2 linked regions of the Homo sapiens genome follow. The protein of the gene in region 1 purifies or fractionates together with the protein of each later gene. This does not show direct contact. Each region holds a gene or a part of one and is shown on either strand. Other genes may lie near its edges. The genes, in order: C1orf159 and LRP8.

What was found.
Region 2: the proteins of C1orf159 (region 1) and LRP8 fractionate together in Homo sapiens (co-fractionation; one large-scale study listed by BioGRID). This does not show direct contact.

What each region holds. Positions count from the first base shown.
Region 1 is NC_000001.11:1,109,318-1,113,129, reverse strand, and holds part of C1orf159 (uncharacterized protein C1orf159 isoform 2 precursor), read left to right. Parts: intron 1-3,812.
Region 2 is NC_000001.11:53,317,860-53,321,671, reverse strand, and holds part of LRP8 (low-density lipoprotein receptor-related protein 8 isoform 1 precursor), read left to right. Parts: intron 1-3,812. UniProt on the Homo sapiens protein: Cell surface receptor for Reelin (RELN) and apolipoprotein E (apoE)-containing ligands. LRP8 participates in transmitting the extracellular Reelin signal to intracellular signaling processes, by binding to DAB1 on its cytoplasmic tail.

The sequences.
Region 1 (3,812 bases):
CTGCCTCCCGGGTTCATGTCATTCTCCTGCCTCAGCCTCCCGAGTAGCTGGGACTACAGGTGCCTGCCACCACAACCGGCTAATTTTTTGTATTTTAGTAGAGAAGGGGTTTCTGCATTTTGGTCAGGCTGGTCTCGAACTCCCAACCTCAGATGATCCACCCACCTCAGCCTCCCAAAGTGCTGGGATCACAGGCGTGAGCCACCGCACCCCACCGACTAAGGCAAGTTTTAGAGCAGGAGTGAAAGTTGTTGAAGAAGCTTTAGAGCAGGAAGGAAAGGAAGTACCCTTGGAGGAGGGCCAGACGGGCGATGTGAGAGATCAGGTGTGCGGTTTCACCTTTTGACTTGGGGTTTTATAGCCTGGCAGGCTTCTGGGGTCTTGCACCCCTTCTCCCCTGATCCTTCTTCAGGGTGGGCTGTCCACCCATGCAGCATCTTGCTAGTACTTGGGCGGGAGCATGCGCCATGTGTTCCCTGGAGGGAGGGAGCATGCCCGGTGTGTTCACTGGAGGGAGGGAGCATGCCCCGTGTATTCACTGGGGGGAGGGAGCATGCGCTGTGTGTTCACTGGAGGGAGGGAGCGTGCGCGTTGTGTTCACTGGAGGGAGGGAGCATGTGCCGTGTGTTCACTGGAGGGAGGTAGCATGTGCCGTGTGTTCACTGGAAGGAGGGAGCATGCGCTGTGTGTTCACTGGAGGGAGGGAGCGTGTGCGTTGTGTTCACTGGAGGGAGGGACCGTGCGCCGTGTGTTCACTGGAGTAGTGCCCATGCTCACCTGAGGCGTTCTTCCGTTACCTGTCAAACGTCCCTAGAAGGTCATAGAACGGTTACACGCCGCCATTTTGCCTCTCAGTGCACACGCTTGAGCCAACTCGCCCAGTTCCTGAGATCGTATCGGGAAGCTGCCCATCACCGGATTTCATGTGTTTTCTAGCTATTGGGAGCCTGTCTTTCCCTGGCGCTGGGTGCAACCAGTTCTTTTAGACAGTTAACAGCCACCTGACCATCACCTGATGGTGGCCTGACATTCCCGGTGGGGGGATGGGCCCGATCCTGCCCTGCTCACGTCTGCTGAGCCACCTACGGCAACCGCCCGACTCCGGTGTGCTGAGCCCACGGGTAGGTGGGCAGCGACTACCATGCATGTCAACAAAGGGGGATGTCTCCTTTACACCCCATCAAGGGGTTTGCGGTATTTGTTTTCTATCAAAGCACGAGAGGGATCTTTAGGTAGAGAGGCCCCAGACAGTTCTTATTGGGCCCTTAAAGCTACGTTTCACGTTGGCTTCCTTTGCTTGCTACGAAGATGACCAGCATTAGCTACACGGATGCAGTGGAAGCTCCAGCCAGCCCTCGGGGCTGTGTTTACCGAGGTTCAGCAGCGTGAGAAACCCGCCAGTGGACCCTCCCGCCTCCCCTTTTCAGTTACTGCTGCCTGGGCGGCTGGAGTTACGGTGAGCGTGGGTGTGGTCTACCCACTGCCCCAGCCGGTGGTTGCTTTTACAGGGTTGTTTTGCAAGATGTTACTTATTTAAAATCACAGTGACCTGAGGCATCATTTTTTTCTTGAAACCAGTTCTTTGTTGTTGTTGTTGAGACGGGGTCTGGCTCTGTCGCCCAGGTAGAGTGCAGTGGTGCGATCATGGCTCACTGTAGCCTTGACCTCCCAGGCTCAAGAGATTCTTTCACTTCAGCCTCCCAAATAGCTGGGACCACAAGTATACGTCACCAAGCCCAGCTATTTTTTTTTTTTTTTTTTTTTGGTAGAGATGAGATCTCACTCTGTTGTCCGGGCTGGTTTTGAACTCCTGGGCTCAAGCGATCCTCCCACCTTGGCCTCCCAAAATGATGGGATTGCAGGCCTGAGCCTCCACACCTGCCCTGAAACCAGTTCTTCTAAGGGAAAATAAGAGTGGTCAAAGAGTGTATAGCACAATTTAAATTCTCACTAAATTTTTCATTGCCTTGTAGAAATTTTCATCCCATTATTTAGCTTTTTGGCTCCAATGAGATTTTCAAAATAGAAAATGCATGTGTTTAGTTACTAAGGCATAATTTACATGCAGTGAAACACACAGAGCTTGTGTCCAGTTCAATTGTTTTGACAAAGGATTCACCAGACTCCTGTCGTGATGTAGAATCTGCCTGTGATCCATGGAGATTGCCTCGCAGGCTGCTCCAGCGCCCGCCTGCCGCGCCAGACAGGAGCGCTGCTGTGATTTTACCGACACTCTGAGTGTTAGGAGTCACACGTGCGGGCGGTTTTGCGTCTGCCACGGCTCACGCAGAGAACTGTTGTTGAGCTTCCTCTGAGGTGCTGCACAAGGAGTGGGTGTGGGATGCGCTGTTGCGTGCTCGTCGTCTCTGAGGGCGCCCGGGTGGGTTTCCGCTGTCTGAAGAGTTGGGCCTATTTTTGTGCACGTGTTTGGCGGGCGTGTGTTGTTTCTCTTGGGAACGTGCCCGGGGGGAAGGCTGCATCCCAGGTGTGGAAGTCCCAGCGGTTCTGTGTGTCCCCACAGCCGAGAGGCTGAGTGCCGTTTGGTCGTGGAGGCTTTAGTTTGCATTTCCCTGACGCTCACCCGTGTTGAGCACTGTCCACTCATCTGTTGCCATTCGCACACGTTTTCTGAGTGTCCGAGGATGTCTTTTGCCCATTTTTTTGATGACCAGATTGTGAAAGTCCTTTATATATTCCATATTCAGGGCTTTTGTCTGGTACGTGTACTGTGACTATCTCCCATTCTTTGATTTGCCTATTAATTTTATTACTGATGTTGTAAACTAAGAATAAAATCCTAAGTCCCCCGCCGACTGAACGAGCTCCCTCTTGGTCAAGGGGACCCCAGAGAAACCTTAAAAATTGAGTTTCCGGCCATAAAAGGATGGGAGGTTGGACACACCTGGTTATACTGCCACCCTTTTTCAGTTTAGACACAACTGACCAACATTAGTGTTAAAGTGGAGATCACGAGACTGACAGACTCTGCGGCAATAAGACGCCGAGTTATAATCAGGACCTAAGGCCGTGCCAGGCCGGGGTTAAGTCACACACCCTTACAGTTAAAGAATAAGGCTTGGGTTTTCTTTTCCTCTAGCAGTTAAGCAGGCACTGGCCTGAGACAAGCGGTATGGAAACAGTGATGGCTCGCTGCCAGGCACTAACTGACCCCCCATTTCACGGCCATAACTACAGCGTCACTTTCCATAACTTCCTCCTGATAAGACACCACTGGCCACGGACTGGTTCTGCTGGTCTATGGAGGATGTGACTGGAGTGACTCCCGGGCCGCGCCTCACCTTTGGCCATATAGGGCCTAATTGTCTTACATGTAAATGTGAAATCTCACCTCTCAGTGAACATGGGTCCTGCGTTACATGCATGTTTATCTAGTACACATGCATTAAGACAGGAGAGAGGAGCGCTTGAGCCCAGGAGTTCAAGACCAGCCTGCGAAACACAGCAAGACACCCTTTTTACCAAAAAATAAAAATAAAATTAGCCAGATATGGTGGCAGGCATGTAGTCCTAGCTACTTGGGAGGCTGAGGCGGGAGAGTTGCTTGAGCCCAGGAGTTCAAGATGGCGGTGAGCTATGATTGCACCACTGCACTCCAGCCTGGGCAACAGAGCAAACCCATCTCTAAAAGAAAGAAAGAAATTTTAAAAAGGAGGAAAGGAAAGAAAGGAGAAAAGAGGAAAGGAAAAAGGAAAGGAAACTGTTCCCATTAAACACTAACTCCCCATTCCTCCCTGCCCCCCAGCCCCTGGCAACCACCGTTGTCTTTTCTGTCTCTATGAATTCGACAACCC
Region 2 (3,812 bases), about 52 Mb from region 1:
CCTCAGGGATGGTTGGCTTCTTCCTCCCCAGTTGTCTGCTGGTGGCCGACTTGACAACTTTCCTCCTTGGGGAAATGCTGGTAGCAGGTGAAGCCAGAGAGAGAGAGACCCCCAGGGGGCAGTGAGGAGCGAGAGCCCAGAGGGCGGATGGAACAGGCACGCCCTTGAAGGAAGTAAATGCATGCATGCTCTCCCAGCACCAGGTTAGTGGTCTACTCCCAGGCCCATGCTGTCCCAGGGGGCCAGCACTGGGGTCTGTGGGAGGGTGTGGGGTTGTGTCCTTAGGGTTGTGGAGCCAGGCCTTGCAGCCCCAGGCCTAAGTAACGTTGGTAGCACCTGCCCCCCAAATGCCCACACATCCAGATCACCCAGGCTCTGAAGGCCTGGCAGGGATGCCACTTCCTCCAGAGATGCCTTTCTAGACCCCTGTCCTCCAGCCCCTCAGGCCCTGAGCTCCCACAACGTGTCCTTTTTCTTCCCGCAGTTGCAGATCCTTCTCAACATTGTGCACTCCGCCAGCCTTGTGCTGGGCAGTAGGAATTCCAAAGTCGTTTCCTCAAGGGGTAGCTAATAACAGCTATTGGCTGCCTATATCCCATGCCTGGGACCACGTTGGACAATTCACATCCTTTAACTTCACTACTCACAACCCTGGGAGGGCTAGTTTTTCGTTCTCATTTCGAAGATGATGAAACTGAGGCTCAGAAAGGAGACGGAACTTGGCCAATGTCATGACCATTAAGTGGTGGAGCCAGGAGCTGACCCAGGTCTGTCTGGTCTGGAGCCCAGACTCTTCTTAAGCCGTTCCCCGCTGAGCGCTGTCTACCCTGGTGGGGTCAGAGGCTGGTGCTTGGAGGGTGTGGGAGGAAGTAGGGAGCAGCTGCAGGACTCAGCAGTGCCTCCCTGAGCTACCAGTTTCTGACCTGGGGAGTGGGACTGGGGAGGGACCCTGTTCTCTGGAGACCCCGCAGAGCCCTCACATAGGCCTTTTCCAGCTCCCATGGGGATGACATTCCAGTTTTCATAGGCTTCTCTCAGCCTTTGCCTGTTAGATGCTGATTCTTCTTCTGACTGTATGGAAGGGGAAACTGAGAACCTGATGATAGTGATGCACATGACCTCAGGGAGTGTCAGCCCAGGGTCATCTCTTTTACTCTCTGTAGTAACACGGGGCCTGGCTGCCTCCTCGCACCCAGGCTTAGAAAGGTGAAACTAAGGCCCTGATGGTCGAATTGGCTCCATCGTCAGTAGGGCACCATTCTCAGAACTCAGGTGTCCTCAATTCTGGGTGGGACTGGAGTCAGAACTGTATGTGCTTCCCCCTCCCACCCCCACCCTCTTTGTTCCCTGCTGGATCCGGGAACAGGGTGCTCTCAGGCTGAGGGGTGGACACAAGCCTTTTGCAGTACCGAAGGGCTTTGGGCTCCTGACTGGGGACCTCAGGTGCACCACTGGCCCCACTGGGCCCTGCTTGCCCACTTCTGGATTGCCAAGAAGTCATCTAAAATACTCACGTTAACACTAAGAAGAGTTAGGGAGCGAGCTAGTGAGGGGCTTTCTCATGCAAGACCTCCTTCAGCCGGTGCCTTGAGGTATCATGACTGCATTTCGCAGAGGAGAGAACCAAGACTCTGAGAGATGAAGTCACTTGCCCCGGGTGGCCCCGCTGGTCAGTGGCAGGACTGGGCCATGCCTGTCTGGCTGCAGGTCTGAGGCAGCTGAAAGGAGATATGCATTCACACATCCCAGTCACGATGACAGTAAAGTGTGGCTTGCAGGCTGTGCTGGGGCCTCTCTTCCTTTCCAGGCGTCCCTCTTTGCCAGCACCTGCTAGTGGGTGTGCCAACTCCCTCCTGAGCAGCCCAGCCCCTTGGGCGCCCTCCAGCATGAGCTGGGTCCCCCGGCAGCGGTTTTAATTATCAGCCCTGCTCACCCCAGCTCCTCTCACAAGCTGCCATATGTCATAGACTCCAGTAATCACCCCGCAGCCGGAGTGGCAGGGGAGGGGCTGAGGGCCTTCAGGGGAATCCTGCTCAGTCTTGACCGAGTTCCTCACTGACTGTACCCGCTCTGACCTCTTTGTCTCTGGTGGGGCCCAGCCTAGGTACCCACAATGGGAGAGCCGGGCCTAGCTGCTTTGGGGGCATAGAATGCGGCATGCTCTCAGGCGCCATGGAGTGTCCTTGGGAAACTGAGAGTCACCCAGCGAGCCCAGGGCTGTGGGGCTCATGTGGTGCACACAGTTCCCATGACCCCTCATGGCCTCTACACGCCTGCCCCTTGGAACGTGGCATGTGGCAGGACAGACACCCCAAAGCTGTCTGCCAGTCTGTCTAGGAGTCCACGGGAGTGGTCATTTGGCCCCCATCCTCCCCTGGTCACTGGCCTTGAGGTACCACAGGGGACTTCATCCCAGCCACTCTGGAGGGCATCTTAGTTTCCAGCCCTCTCAACCTGCCGTAATCCTTGGATGGCTTTTCCAGTTGGTGCCTCACAGGTGTGCTCCTGGGAGGCAGGCGGTGCAGGAGTTCATTATGATCCCCATTCCTTGATGAGGAAAACGAGGCTCAGAGAGGATAAGAGACTCACCCAGTTATTGGTAGTTCTGGAGCTAAAACTCACTTCAACTGATTTTACTTATTTAGTTTTCCAGGGTAAGTAACTTCTGGTTAGCTGAAAGTAACTTTACACTTGTAATGAAAAACATAGTTAATAAAGAACAGGAAACGAAGGTTGCAGTGAGCCGAGATCACACCACTGCACTCCAGCTTGGACGAAGGTAGTTCTCACCCTTGCTAGTACCACTATGTAAGCAGCATAGCCTTCTAGAGATTTTTCTCTGCATGTGAGCTCTTGGGCATGAACATATGTATTTTTTTTTTTTAACAAAAATGAGGCCATGTTATGCCGGTTGTTTTCACATATGGCTTTCTATGGCAATAACAGTAGTTCACATCCTTGTTTTAAAGGGCTAGATAGTATTGTATTGTGTGGATCTTCCATAATTTAATGACATTTTCTCCCGTTGATAGATGTGTGTTTGGTTGCTTCCATGTTTTTCCCTGCTCTGTGCAATGCTAGGATGGACATCCTTGAACTCCATCCTTGTGCATTTGCTTGGTCCTTTCTTTAAGATAAGTTCTTAGGAAAGGAGCTGCTGAGTGTGTGCATTTTCATCATTGCCGTTCTGCTCTCTAGAGGGGAGAATCTTTCCCATCTCACAACTCTCTCCCTCTATGGCCCCATGGCTCTCCTTTCCAGCGAGGCAGGCAGCTGAAGGACTTCCCTCTTCTCTGAGCACAGGGCCACCTCATTCTGGTCCCATGGGACAAAGCAGCCATATCCAGGCCACAGAAAGCAAAGCCAGGAGAGAGAACAACGAGCGGTGTTCTGGCCCCAAGGGCTTTCACCCCCACCAAAAAAAAAAAAAAGCAGAAGAGTACAAAACTGTTCCTTCATTCTTCTCAGGATATTGGTAGAAGGCATCTCCTCCGCAGCGTTCTAATTCTTCTATCTATGCCCCTAACTTGCTGTGTGACCTTGGGTGAATGGCTCTCCCTCTCTGAACTTCATTTTCCTTTCACTCATTGGTCCTTATTCCACCTGCACTGCCCCCAGCACTTGGAGCAGACTCCTGTGCCTGGAGCTGGGTTCAGGGCTGGAGCTGGCCAGTCCTTGCCTAGGGCAGGGATCTGTGCCTTACTACCTGGTGACAGTGCGGGGAGTATAGCTGGCTTGGTGGGCTGGATTCTGGGCAGGGAAACAGGGCAGCTGGACTCCTTAGCTCCACTTCCAGAGCTCCACCCTGAGGC